Regions from separate parts of the Homo sapiens genome. Here region 2 is linked to region 1. Evidence: fine-mapped expression QTL. Tissue or cell type: visceral fat. Region 1 holds a variant in brackets; the other region holds the start of a gene. All regions are shown on one strand. Distances are from middle to middle.

Region 1 (7,780 bases):
AGTCTCGGGCTCCAGGCCCACCTCATCACCAGGCAGGCCCTGGTTTTCCCAGGCTCCAGACTGGTCCCATGGCCAGGCCGCTCCCTCAGCCCTAGACTCTGGGTACACCCATGAACCAAGCCTGCGTTGGGGCAAGGCTAGCCTCACAGCCCCAGGCTCTGGGCTGGCACCCATGGAATGAGCCACCAGCCCTGCCATGGGGCCAAGGTGGCCCTACAGCCTTAGATTCCAAGCCAGCCTCCAGAGCCCCAGACTCCAGGCTGACACATGCAGACATCACCTGCAGACCAGTCCCTACAGCCCCAGACTTCAGGCCTGGACATGTGGACCCAGCTTCCAGATCCTCCTCAGTGTCAGGACAACCCCTGTGACCCTCGACCTGGTCTGCTTCAATGATAGGCCGTCTTCTGTAGTTTCAGACTTCAGGCTGGCACCCACAGACCTAGTCTCTGTACCCACTCCAGCTCCAGGCTGACCCCTGTGACCTCAAGCACCAGGCCAGAACCTACAAAGCCAGCTTCCAGGCCAGCCCCCAAGGATTAAAGGCTCCAGGCTTGCCCAGTGCCACACTAGCACCTTTGGCCTCAGACCCCAGGCTGGCCCTCTCAGACTCAGGCTCCAGGCCCATGCCAGGCGCCAGACAGGCTAAGAGGAAGTCTGACCCACATGGCCTCGGGCTTCAGGCCCACGCCAGGGCAAGACTGGCCCCAATAGCCAGGTTGGTCCCCATGGCACCAGGACCCAGGCCCAAATCCATGAACTCAGGTTCCAGCTCCACCATACCTGCTCACCAAGCCAGCTTTCCCAAGAAATCCAGCAGCAAGTCTATCCATGCACCATGCCAGATGGTCTTCCCAGAATCTCTGGATGGACTGAACCGTGAAGGGCTTTCCCAGCCAGAGCCAGTCATCAAGCACTGGAGCAAGTCCCCACTTCTTTTTTGGTTTTTCTTTTTCCTTTTTTTTTTTTTTTTCCTAATGGAGCTATTGTTGTTTATTCCTAACCGCAGCTATTGTTGCTCCGGTTGGAGTGCAATGGCACAATCTCAGCTCACTATAACCTCCGCCTCCCGGGTTCCAGTGATTCTCCTGCTTCAGACTCCTGAGTAGCTGGGACTACAGGCGCCCACCACCACGCCCAGCTAACTTTTTGTATTTTTAGTAGAGACGGGGTTTCACCATGTTGGCCAGGCTGGTCCCGAGCTCCTGACCTCAAGTGATCCACCCACCTCTGCCTCCCAAAGTGCTGGGATTACAGGCATGAACCACCGCGCCTGGCCCAAGTCCCTACTTCTTTAAATGCACAGAAGCCGATGTACAGCCACAAAGGTCACAATCAATCAGGGAAACATGACACTACCAAAGGAACAAAGTAAAGCTTCACTGATCAACCCTAAAGAAGAGAGATTTAGAAACTTTCTAAGAAGGAATTAAAAATAATCTTCCTAAAGTAGTTCACTGCATTACAAGGAATGCTAGAGGGAATTCTTCAAGCTGAGAGAAAACGATCTGGTTTTTGAGTCTGTTTGTTATTTGGGTTTTGTTTTTTGTATGTTTCTTTGTTTGTTTTGAGACAGGATCTCACTCTGTCACCTGGACTGGAGTGCAGTGGTGTGATCGTGGCTCACTGCAACCTCGACTTCCCAGGCTCAAGTAAACCTCCTACATGAGCCTCCCAAGAAGCTGGGACTGCAGGCATGCACTGCCATGCCCAGCTAATTTTTTTGTTTGTTTCTATTTTGTGTGGAGACAGTGTTTCACTATGTTGCCCAGGCTGGTCTCCAACTCCTGAGCTCAAGTGATCAGCCTGCCTCAGCCTCCCAAAGTGCTGGGACTACACGCACGAGCCATCGCACCTGGCCAAGAAAAGGATGTTAATTGGTAATAAGAAAATATGAAAGAAGAAAATTTATGAGTAAAATAAGTACATGTTCAAACCCAGAATACTCATTGTAATGACGATGTATAAATCACTTATATCTTTAGTATGAAGGTTAAAAGACAAAACTATTTGTGAAAGTATAGCTACAAAAATGTGTTAAGGGATATGGAATTTAAAAAAGATGTAAATAGTGACATCAAAAACATAAAATATACGGGGAGTTAAGGAGCATAATTGTAGTTTTTGTGTGTAATCAAAGTTAAGTTGTTATCAGCTCAGAATAGTCTGTTATAACCATAAGATATTTTATGTAAGCCTCATGGTATTCATAAAACAGAAATCTATAGTAGATACACGAAAGATAAAAAGTGAAGAATCAATTGTGAATGGGAGTTCACTCATGATTTGGCGCTCTGTTTTTCTGTTATTGGTGTATAAGAATGCTTGTGATTTTTGTACATTGATTTTGTATCCTGAGACTGCTGAAGTTGCTTATCAGCTTAAGGAGATTTTGGGCTGAGACAATGGGGTTTTCTAGATATACAATCATGTCGTCTGCAAACAGGGACAATTTGGCTTCCTCTTTTCCTAATTGAATACCCTTTATTTCCTTCTCTTGCCTAATTGTCCTGACCAGAACTTCCAACACTATGTTGAATAGGAGTGGTGAGAGAAGGCATCCCTGTCTTGTGCCAGTTTTCAAAGGGAATGCTTCCAGTTTTTGCCCATTCAGTATGATATTGGCTGTGGGTTTGTCATAGATAGCTCTTATTATTTTGAGATACGTCCCATCAATACCTAATTTATTGAGAGTTTTTAGCATGAAGCCTTGTTGAATTTTGTCAAAGGCCTTTCTGCATCTATTGAGATAATCATGTGGTTTTTGTCTTTGGTTCTGTTTATATGCTGTATTACATTTATTGATTTGTGTATATTGAACCAACCTTGCATCCCAGGGATGAAGCCCACTTGATCATGTTGGATAAGCTTTTTGATGTGCTGCTGGATTCAGTTTGCCAGTATTTTATTGAGGATTTTTGCATCAATGTTCATCAAGGATATTGGTCTAAAATTCTCTTTTTTGGTTGTGTCTCTGCCAGGCTTTCGTATCAGGATGATGCTGGCCTCATAAAATGAGTTAGGGAGGATTCCCTCTTTTTCTATTGATTGGAATCATATCAGAAGGAATGGTACCAGTTCCTCCTTGTACCTCTGGTAGAATTCGGCTGTGAATCCATCTGGACCTGCACTGTTTTTGGTTGGTAAGCTATTGATTATTGCCACAATTTCAGATCCTGTTATTGGTCTATTCAGAGATTCAACTTCTTCCTGGTTTAGTCTTGGGAGAGTGTATGTGTCGAGGAATTTATCCATTTCTTCTAGATTTTCTAGTTTATTTGTGTAGAGGTGTTTGTAGTATTCCCTGATGGTAGTTTGTATTTCTGTGAGATTGGTGGTGATATCCCCTTTATCATTTTTTATTGTGTCTATTTGATTCTTCTCTCTTTTTTTCTTTATTAGTCTTGCTAGAAGTCTATCAATTTTGTTGATCCTTTCAAAAAATCAGCTCCTGGATTCATTAACTTTTTGAAGGGTTTTTTTTGTCTCTATTTCCTTCAGTTCTACTCTGATTTTAGTTATTTCTTGCCTTCTGCTAGCTTTTGAATGTGTTTGCTCTTGCTTCTCTAGTTCTTTTAATTGTGATGTTAGGGTGTCAATTTTGGATATTTCCTGCTTTCTCTTGTGGGCATTTAGTGCTATAAATTTCCCTCTACACACTGCTTTGAATGTGTCCCAGAGATTCTGGTATGTTGTGTCTTTGTTCTGGTTGGTTTCAAAGAACATCTTTATTTCTGCCTTCATTTCATTATGTACCCAGTAGTCATTCAGGAGCAG[G/C]TTGTTCAGTTTCCATGTAGTTGAGCGGTTTTGAGTGAGTTTCTTAATCCTGAGTTCTAGTTTGATTGCATTGTGGTCTGAGAGACAGTTTGTTATAATTTCTGTTCTTTTACATTTGCTGAGGAGAGCTTTACTTCCAACTATGTGGTCAATTTTGGAATAGGTGTGGTGTGGTGCTGAAAAAAATATATATTCTGTTGATTTGGGGTGGAGAGTTCTGTAGATGTCTATTAGGTCCGCTTGGTGCAGAGCTGAGTTCAATTCCTGGGTATCCTTGTTAACTTTCTGTCTCGTTGACCTGTCTAATGTTGAAAGTGGGGTGTTAAAGTCTTGCATTATTATTGTGTGGGAGTCTAAGTCTCTTTGTAGGTCACTAAGGACTTGCTTTATGAATCTGTGTGCTCCTGTATTGGGTGCATATATATTTAGGATAGTTAGCTCTTCTTGTTGAATTGATCCCTTTACCATTATGTAATGGCCTTCTTTGTCTCTTTTGATCTTTGTTGGTTTAAAGTCTGTTTGATCAGAGACTAGGATTGCAATCCCTGCCTTTTTTTGTTTTCCATTTGCTTGGTAGATCTTCCTCCATCCTTTTATTTTGAGCCTATGTGTGTCTCTGCATGTGAGATGGGTTTCCTGAATACAGCACACTGATGGGTCTTGACTCTTTATCCAATTTGCCAGTCTGTGTCCTTTAATTGGAGCATTAAGTCCATTTACATTTAAAGTTAATATTGTTATGTGTGAATTTGGTCCTGTCATTATGATGTTAGCTGGTTATTTTGCTCATTAGTTGATGCAGTTTCTTCCTAGTCTCGATGGTCTTTATATTTTGGCATGATGTTGCAGTGGCTGGTACCGGTTGTGCCTTTCCATGTTTAGTGCTTCCTTCAGGAGCTCTTTTAGGACAGGCCTGGTGGTGACAAAATCTCTCAGCATTTGCTTGTCTGTAAAGGATTTTATTTCTCCTTCACTTATGAAGCTTAGTTTGGCTGGATATGAAATTCTGGGTTGAAAATTCTTTTCTTTAAGAATGTTGAATATTGGCCCCCTCTCTCCTGGCTTGTAGAGTTTCTGCCGAGAGATCCGCTGTTAGTCTGATGGGCTTCCCTTTGTGGGTAACCCGACCTTTCTGTCTGGCTGCCCTTAACATCTTTTCCTTCATTTCAACTTTGGTGAATCTGACAATTATGTGTCTTGGAGTTGCTCTTCTCGAGGAGTATCTTTGTGGTGTTCTCTGTATTTCCTGAATCTGAATGTTGGCCTGCCTTGCTAGATCGGAGAAGTTCTCCTGGATAATATCCTGCAGAGTGTTTTCCAACTTGGTTCCATTCTCCCCGTCACTTTCAGGTACACCAATCAGACGTAGATTTGGTCTTTTCATATAGTCCCATATTTCTTGGAGGCTTTGTTCATTTCTTTTTATTCTTTTTTCTCTAAACTTCCCTTCTCACTTCATTTCATTCATTTCATCTTCCATCCCTGTTACCCTTTCTTCCAGTTGATCGCATCGGCTCCTGAGGCTTCTGCATTCTTCACGTAGTTCTTGAGCCTTGGCTTTCAGCTCCATGAGCTACTTTAAGCACTTCTCTGAATTGGTTATTCTAGTTATACATTCATCTAAATTTTTTTCAAAGTTTTCAACTTCTTTGCCTTTGGTTTGAATTTCCTCCTGTAGCTCAGAGTAGTTTGATCATCTGAAGCCTTCTTTTCTCAACTCGTCAAAGTCATTCTCCATCCAGCTGTGTTCCATTGCTGGTGAGGAACTGCATTCCTTTGGAGGAGGAGAGGTGCTCTGCTTTTTAGAGTTTCCAGTTTTTCTGCTCTGTTTTTTCCCCATCTTTGTGGTTTTTCAAAGAGAATAAAATACTTAGGAATCCAACTTACAAGGGACGTGAAGGACTTCTTCAAGGAGAACTACAAACCACTGCTCAATGAAATAAAAGAGGATACAAACAAATGGAAGAACATTCCATGCTCATGGGTAGGAAGAATCAATGTCATGAAAATGGCCATACTGCCCAAGGTAATTTATAGATTCAATGCCATCCCCATCAAGCTACCAATGACTTTCTTCACAGAATTGGAAAAATCTACTTTAAAGTTCATATGGAACCAAAAAAGAGCCCGCATCGCCAAGTCAATCCTAAGCCAAAAGAACAAAGCCGGGGGCATCAACCTACCTGACTTCAAACTATACTACAAGGCTACTGTAACCAAAACAGCATGGTACTGGTACCAAAACAGAGATATAGATCAATGGGACAGAACAGAGCCCTCAGAAATAACGCCGCACATCTACAACTATGTGATCTTTGACAAACCTGAGAAAAGCAAGCAATGGGGAAAGGATTCCCTATTTAATAAATGGTGCTGGGAAAACTGGATAGCCATATGTAGAAAGCTGAAACTGGATCCCTTCCTTACGCCTTATACAAAAATCAATTCAAGATGGATTAAAGACTTAAATGTTAGACCTAAAACCATAAAAACCCCAGAAGAAATGCTAGGCATTACCATTCAGGCATAGGCATGGGCAAGGACTTCATGTCTAAAACACCAAAAGCAATGGCAACAAAAGCCAAAATTGACAAATGGGATCTAATTAATCTAAAGAGCTTCTGCACAGCAATAGAAAATACCATCAGAGCGAACAGGCAACCTACAAAATGGGAGAAAATTTTCGTAACCTACTTATCTGACAAAGGGCTAATATCCAGAATCTACAATGAACTCAAACAAATTTACAAGAGAAAAACAAACAACCCCATCAAAAAGTGGGCAAAGGATAGGAACAGACACTTCTCAAAAGAAGACATTTAAGCAGCCAAAAGACACATGAAAAAATGCTCATCATCACTGGCCATCAGAGAAAAGCAAATCAAAACCACAGTGAGATACCATCTCACACCAGTTAGAATGACAATCATTAAAAAGTCAGGAAACAACAGGTGCTGGAGAGGATGTGGAGAAATAGGAACACTTTTACACTGTTGGTGGGACTGTAAACTAGTTCAACCATTGTGGAAGTCAGTGTGGCGTTTCCTCAGGGATCTAGAACTAGAAATACCATTTGACCCAGCCATCCCATTACTGGGTATATACCCAAAGGATTATAAATCTTGCTGCTATAAAGACACATGCACACGTATGTTTATTGCAGCACCATTCACAATAGCAAAGACTTGGAACCAACCCAAATGTCCAACAATGATAGACTGGATTAAGAAAATTTGGCACATATACACCACGGGAATACTATGCAGCCATAAAAAATGATGAGTTCATGTCCTTTGTAGGGACATGGATGAAATTGGAAATCATCATTCTCAGCAAACAATCTCAAGGACAAAAAACCAAACACCGCATGTTCTCACTCATAGATGGGAATTGAACAATGAGAACACATGGACACAGGAAGGGGAACATCACACTCTGGGGACTGTTGTGGGGTGGGGGGAGGGGGGAGGGATAGCATTAGGAGATATACCTAATGCTAAATGACGAGTTAATGGGTGCAGCACACCAGCATGGCACATGTATACATATGTAACAAGCCTGCACATTGTGCACATGTACCCTAAAACTTAAAGTATAATAAAAAAAGATCAATCCTTCTCAAACTCATCCAATAAACTGAAAAATTAAGAATACTTCCAAACTCATTTTACAAGGCCAGCATTACCCTAATTCCAAAGCCAGACGAGGACACTACAAGAAAATTATAGGCCCATATGCCTGATGAACATAGAAGCAAAAATCCTCAACAAAGTACTAGCAAATCAAATTTCATAGCACATTAATTTTTTGTGTGTTTTTCTGCTGTTTAATTAAAGGATTGCTCAGCATGACCTAGTGCCTATGGGATGTGCATTGAACTCAGTGCTGCCCTGTCACAGCAGAAAGCAAAACTGGTCAGAAGTCGGCTGATGCCTGCCCACAGAGGGAGCATTTAGACCAGCCCTAGCCAGAGGCGATTTATACACCGCAGAGGTCAGAACTT
Region 2 (5,890 bases), 700 kb before region 1:
CTGAATCTGAGGAGCCTGGCATGCCTTGCGAGGGAATTTGAACTTTATCACACAGGCAATGGGGAAAATCAGAGGAAGATTTAACCAGGGAAATTACATGATCAAAAAAACAAAATTTATAGCCAGGTGCGGTGGCTCATGCCTGTAATCCCAGCACTTTCAGAGGCCAAGGCAGGTGGATCACTTGAAGTCAGGAGTTCCAGACCAGCCTGAGCAACACGGTGAAACCCCGTCTCTACAGAAAATACAAAAATTAGCTGGGCGTGGTGGCACATGCCTGTAGTCCCAGCTACTCCCGAGGCTGAGATGGGAGGATTGCTTGAGTGCAGCAGGTCAAGGCTGCAGTGAGCCAAGATCACACCACTGCATTCCAGTCTGAGTGACAGAGCAAGACCCTGTCTCAAAAAAGAAGGAAAGAAGGAAGGAAGGAAGGAAGGAAGGAAGGAAGGAAGGAAGGAAGGAAGGAAGGAGAAAGAAAGAAAGAAAGAAAGAAAGAAAAAGAAAGAAAGAAAGAAAGAAAGAAAGAAAGAAAGAAAGAAGGAAGGAGAAAGAAAGAAGGAAGGAAGGAAGGAAAGAAAGAAAGAAGGAAGGAAAGAAAGAAAGAAATTATACGATCGCATGTAAGTTATATAATCCCAGTTCTGCCTCGTTGGGCAAGTCAATCTCTGAGCATTGTTAGTGTCTTCATCTATAAAATGCGGATAATAGTGGTACCTACCTCATGGGGTTGAATTGAGGAGTAAATGATTGAGGAGTAAATGAACTAATGTTCGTAAAGCAATTTGCACAGAGACTGGCACATAATAAGGGCTCCATAAATTTTAGCCATAATTACCAGACATGTTTCTTAGAACGGTAACCTTGCTGGCAGCTCTGAATATAAACTGTAGTGAGGTAAAGACTGATGGAAGGAGATCCAATTAAGATGATACTGCACCTTTTTTTTTTTTTGACAGGGTGTTATTCTGTCACCCAGGCTGGAGCACAGTGGCATGATCTTGGCTCACTGCAACCTCCACCTCTTGGGTTCAAGCGACTCTCCCACCTCAGCCTCCCAAGTAGCTGGGACTACAGGTGCGTGCCCCACACCAGGCTAATTTTTCTATTTTTAGCAGAGATGGGTTTCACCATGTTGGCCAGGCTGGTCTCAAACTCCTGACCTCAAGTGATCCGCCTGCCTCGACCTCCCAAAGTGCTGATATTACAGGCGTCAGCCACTGCACCCGGCTGATCCTACAATTTAAATGCAGTTATAAATAGGTCTTGAACTGGGATTTGGATGTAGAAAGTTACGGAGATGAAGAAGTAATGGGTAATTACCTCTAAGCTGCTGCTTGGAGCTTGGGAGACTGGGTAGATCAGGACTACCATAAGTCAAATTCAGAGATAAGGGTAGCCAGAGGATAGGGGTGCGGGTGCAGGAACAGATAATGAGTTTGGACCTGTTGAATGAGAAGTGAAGCCGTTGGAGATGTGAACCTGGAGAATATCGGTGTTGAAGGGAAAGCCAGAAGAGCCAGTGGAGGAAACTGATTGGTAAGTGAGACCTCACTGTCAGTGGGAACTGCATATGGGGGGATGAAGGCGGGTGGAGGGAGGAGGAAGGGGGTGAGGAGGAACACCACCGTGGGCTAACCATTTGTTTATGTTACACAAGCCCCCCACCCAACTCTCCAACGTGCATACATCCTATTTTCTAGTCAGTTCCTTGCTTCTTGCTTCTTGGTCTCCTGCATCTTTAAGAGAATAATTTTTTCCCTTTTGCCGTCTCCTAAATGAAGGAGGGAAAGGGCTAGCACCTCTCAATCTGGTCACCTACACGACTCTGAATCACAAGGGAGACAATGGAAAGGGGGAAAGGGCGAAAAACGATTCTTAAGAAAAGAAAGAGTCCGCGACGACTTCTAATAATTAAAGTTCCACCTCGTTATATCCTGCCACGCCGCTCTCCTGCCGCCGTATCGGGCTCCTGGCCGCGAAGCAGGACGGGAGATGTAGTCCTCAAGAGTGACCAGGGTGGCACGACTGCAGAACTCGGTTTCCCGACTGGCTTTCGAGGCGCGTGCGCAGATGGCTGCCCCGGCGAGTGGTAAACAGAGACGTCAGGAGGGGGCTGCTGCTTGGAGCAAAACAAAAGGGAAACCCGGGGGGCGGGGGGTGGGGGGGGTTGATAGGGGAATCGGTGCGGGAATAAGGGAGGCCGCAGCCGCGGGGACCCGGACCCTAGTAAGAGTGGCGAGAAGGGAAGAGGCGGGGGAAGGGGGAGTCAGGGGAGGGGCAAGTGACGCGGGGGAGCGGGGCGTGGGGGAGGGCAGCAATCCGGGTGGAGGAAATTTGGGAGGAGTGTCCGGGGGGCAGCAACTTAAAAGGGGGAGGGAACTGCGGCTAAGGAGACGTTCGGTGATGGGAGCGCAATATATGAGGGGATACAGTGCCTCAGGTTTAAAAGAGCAGGAAGCTGAGTGAGAGGTTGCAGAAAAAGTGTCTTCGCTCGGCAGAGGTTACAGGTGGCATCTCAGAAAGAGCTTTGAGGCTACAGGCTGTAGTCGGGAAGGGGATCGGAGAACTGTGTGAAGGGACAGCTTAGGGACTAGCGTCCTGGGACTAGGGGGAAGTTCGCGACTTTCTGAAGACTGGCAGGAATGTGCCTCCTGGCCCTCGATGCTTCCCCCCTGAGGGGAGGCATCGTGAGGGACTGTGGCAGGCTTCACTGAACGCTGAGCCGGGGAGGTCCAACTCCACGTATGGATCCGGGGAATGAGAATTCAGCCACAGAGGCTGCCGCGATCATAGACCTAGATCCCGACTTCGAACCCCAGAGCCGTCCCCGCTCCTGCACCTGGCCCCTTCCCCGACCAGAGATCGCTAACCAGCCGTCCGAGCCGCCCGAGGTGGAGCCAGATCTGGGGGAAAAGGTACACACGGAGGGGCGCTCAGAGCCGATCCTGTTGCCCTCTCGGCTCCCAGAGCCGGCCGGGGGCCCCCAGCCCGGAATCCTGGGGGCTGTAACAGGTCCTCGGAAGGGAGGCTCCCGCCGGAATGCCTGGGGAAATCAGTCATATGCAGAACTCATCAGCCAGGCCATTGAAAGCGCCCCGGAGAAGCGACTGACACTTGCCCAGATCTACGAGTGGATGGTCCGTACTGTACCCTACTTCAAGGACAAGGGTGACAGCAACAGCTCAGCAGGATGGAAGGTAATTATGACCCTCTTACCTTCTTCCCAACACCATCTACCCCCTGGACCCCCTAGCCTCCCTTACTTCTACTCTGGGGCCCCTTTTACTACCTCCCACCCCCACCCCCTTTGGGAAGCCCAGAGATCCACCTTCAATCTCCAGTTAGACAAACATTTACTTAGTACATAGTATATGCCACACTCGGTGCTTGATGCTGAAGGATCACAGATGAATAAGACACTGTCCCTGCCCTGGAGAAAATTGAATTCTCTGCTCACTGCTCAATATTCGCAGCACTTTGGCTTGGGCTGCCCCAAACACTTATTCCCACAGAGAAGTCTTTATCCTATGTACAGCAGGAACTGTGTGGATTCCCCACATGAACCTACCCTTCCCTCCTCCCCCACCTCCCACCCCAACACCTTTTCTCCCATTCCTGTGGGATTACTTGGATTCCCTGCTTGCCTCCCAGTACCTCAGTGTAGTGGTACTGTTCTAGCACTGCTCTACCCAGGAGGAGGGAGTGCAGTGGCAAAGGGTAAAAACAATAATATTCATGGGGAAAGGTAGCTGATCTCATGCACTAAGAAGAAAAAGGGCTGTGAGCTGCCACTTGGCTCAGCTTACCCTGTGCTGCCAAGAAACTCTCCCTTGTAAGGGGCTATCCAAGTTTTGGGGGGAAGTCATCCTTTACTGTTAAGGAATATTAGTCATGAAGAAGGAGGTAGGGCTCTGACTTTAGAGCACAAAGTTGGGAGTTCTCTTGGCCTTCTGTGAAGAAACTGTGAGAGAATATCTCAAAGGATACTCTGAAAAACTTGTCCTGAGAAAATATGGGGCTGTAATCACAAAATTGGGGAGCCTCAAGCCCTATTGCTGGCTTGTACCTCTCTAGGTGGTGAGGTCAGCATATAACCAAGTACAGAAGGTTGGATGAGCAGAGGAACTTCCCCTAGGTATAGGAGACTGAGGGATCAGATCTGTGCTATCCCTAGGGGCTGGGCAGAACAGAAGATAGGACAGCTGACTGAGACCCTTGGCACTATTTCTGGGTAGACTGCCACGCCACAGTCTCAGCTCATAAAAAGCTCCCCTCCTTGGACCCAGCCTACACAGCTGTTTTTCTTTTCCCTTAGGTTCATTTTCCAGGGTAGAGGAAATAACAAGTTGTTAGTTATATTGTGGGAGTATAGTCCGTCCTTATAATCTACACTTCTGTGGGGCTTTAGAGTTTACAAAGTAGTTTTTAAAGTTTTTATTTTATTAATCTTTACAGCAATTCTGAGATTCCACATTTTACACATTAGGAAACTAGGTACCAAAAGGTTAGGAAATTCACCTAATAACAGCAGGGTGAGGACTTGAACTCAGGTCTAACTATAAATCATATTCTCTAAAAAGAGCCTGGCTTGCTCTAATTGGAATGAGGGCAAAGTCAAATCAGGCTGAGCCTGGGACTTCAAGGCCCCCCCACCCCTCTCTGAGGGGAAGTCTCATGCCTGAACTGGCCTCCCTGATGATATGCCAAGGTTACTCCCACCCCACCAGGGGGCGGCACTCACTTAGAACAAGAAAGTTTAGATTAGGTGGCTTAGGGAGCAATTAGCAGTCACCCCCACCACCCTGCCCTCCAACATGTAAGAGTTATGGGCTTTTGGGAAACTGACCTCTCCAATTAAGAGTCTGTGTACCACTTGCTAGTTCCAAGGCCTAAAGAAGAGGAGACAAACGGGCCTTGTGGCTATTAAGTAGTAGGGAAAGGAATGGATCTTCTCAAGTAGATCCAGAATTAGAGGATAAAAAGAGGAGAAATCATAGTGCCAGGTCATGGTCATTGTGGTCCTTAGTTACTATGAGGTGAGGCCGGATGGACAAGTGCCACTCCTTGAAGGAACATCAGCACAGTTGAAATGCCATTACCTCAGGGTCCCAGGAACACAAGGAGTTCTTTGGCTAAAGAACCCTGGAACAAGAAGCATCATTCCCCAGGCAAAGGTGCTCCTTATCTTAAGAGCACCAGTCAGAGAAACAAGTAGTTTCTGACCGTCCCATGTACTCAGCCTCCTAGTTGCTCTAAGCACTTCTGGGCTCCTCCTGAATTTCTAAACTAAAGACCTCCAAGTGGGAGGTCAAATGCCCCCAAGGTTGAAGAGTTTATGCACAAATTCCTGAGAAATGGGGGAAAGGCACTGGGAAGGAGGTAGGGAAAAGAAGGCAGGTTTCGGGAAGGGGGGTGGCCAGGGGAGGGCCAAACCCCTTGTGTAACTAGCCTGCCCCGCGGCAATCAGTAAATATAAGCTGCACTGGGGGCTGAAGAAGCTGCCAATCTCAGCTCCCTGGGCCACTGGAAAGCATCGTTTCCCTAGTAGAATGTCACCAGTGAGGGAGGAAGGGAAAACATACAGCTTCCAATACCCAAGGCACTGAAGAGCTGGCAGAGCCTCAAGGGGAGCCTCACCATTGTCAACCCAGGGGCAACCCACCAATCAGGTACAAATATTGATTATGTACTGTGAGCTTGAGTAGGTATAGAATATGTGCTGTGAGCTTGGTGCTCTGGGAGGGCTTTGATGGGGGATGTGGGACTGGAGGACATTACACTTGGCACTTACACTCGATGAGACGAATTACATGAAACCATAAGCCACACAATATAAATTGGGTGAAATTGTGTGGCGCAGATTTTAAAAATACTATACTAGAAATTTGGC

Alleles and levels. Alleles are on the strand shown, and positions count from the first base shown. SD is a standard deviation of normalised expression in the study named.
For the expression in visceral fat of the gene that starts at base 2,067 in region 2, G is the low allele of the variant in region 1 and C is the other (small effect, 0.32 SD a copy in GTEx).

Evidence for each region. PIP is the estimated chance that this variant, and not a neighbour inherited with it, causes the effect.
Region 2: FOXO4 starts here. The variant in region 1 is fine-mapped to the expression of FOXO4 in visceral fat (GTEx, PIP 0.94).

The regions. Positions count from the first base shown.
Region 1 is chrX:71,796,204-71,803,983 of GRCh38, forward strand. No RefSeq gene overlaps it. Among named protein-coding and RNA genes, the nearest start is that of CXorf49B, 37 kb to the left of the region's middle. The variant G/C (reference allele first, on the strand shown) is at 3,778.
Region 2 is chrX:71,093,785-71,099,674 of GRCh38, forward strand. FOXO4 (forkhead box O4) reads left to right here and starts at 2,067. Exons shown (of 3, transcript NM_005938.4): 1 at 2,067-3,197. The coding sequence starts at 2,745. RefSeq lists an enhancer at 4,535-4,829.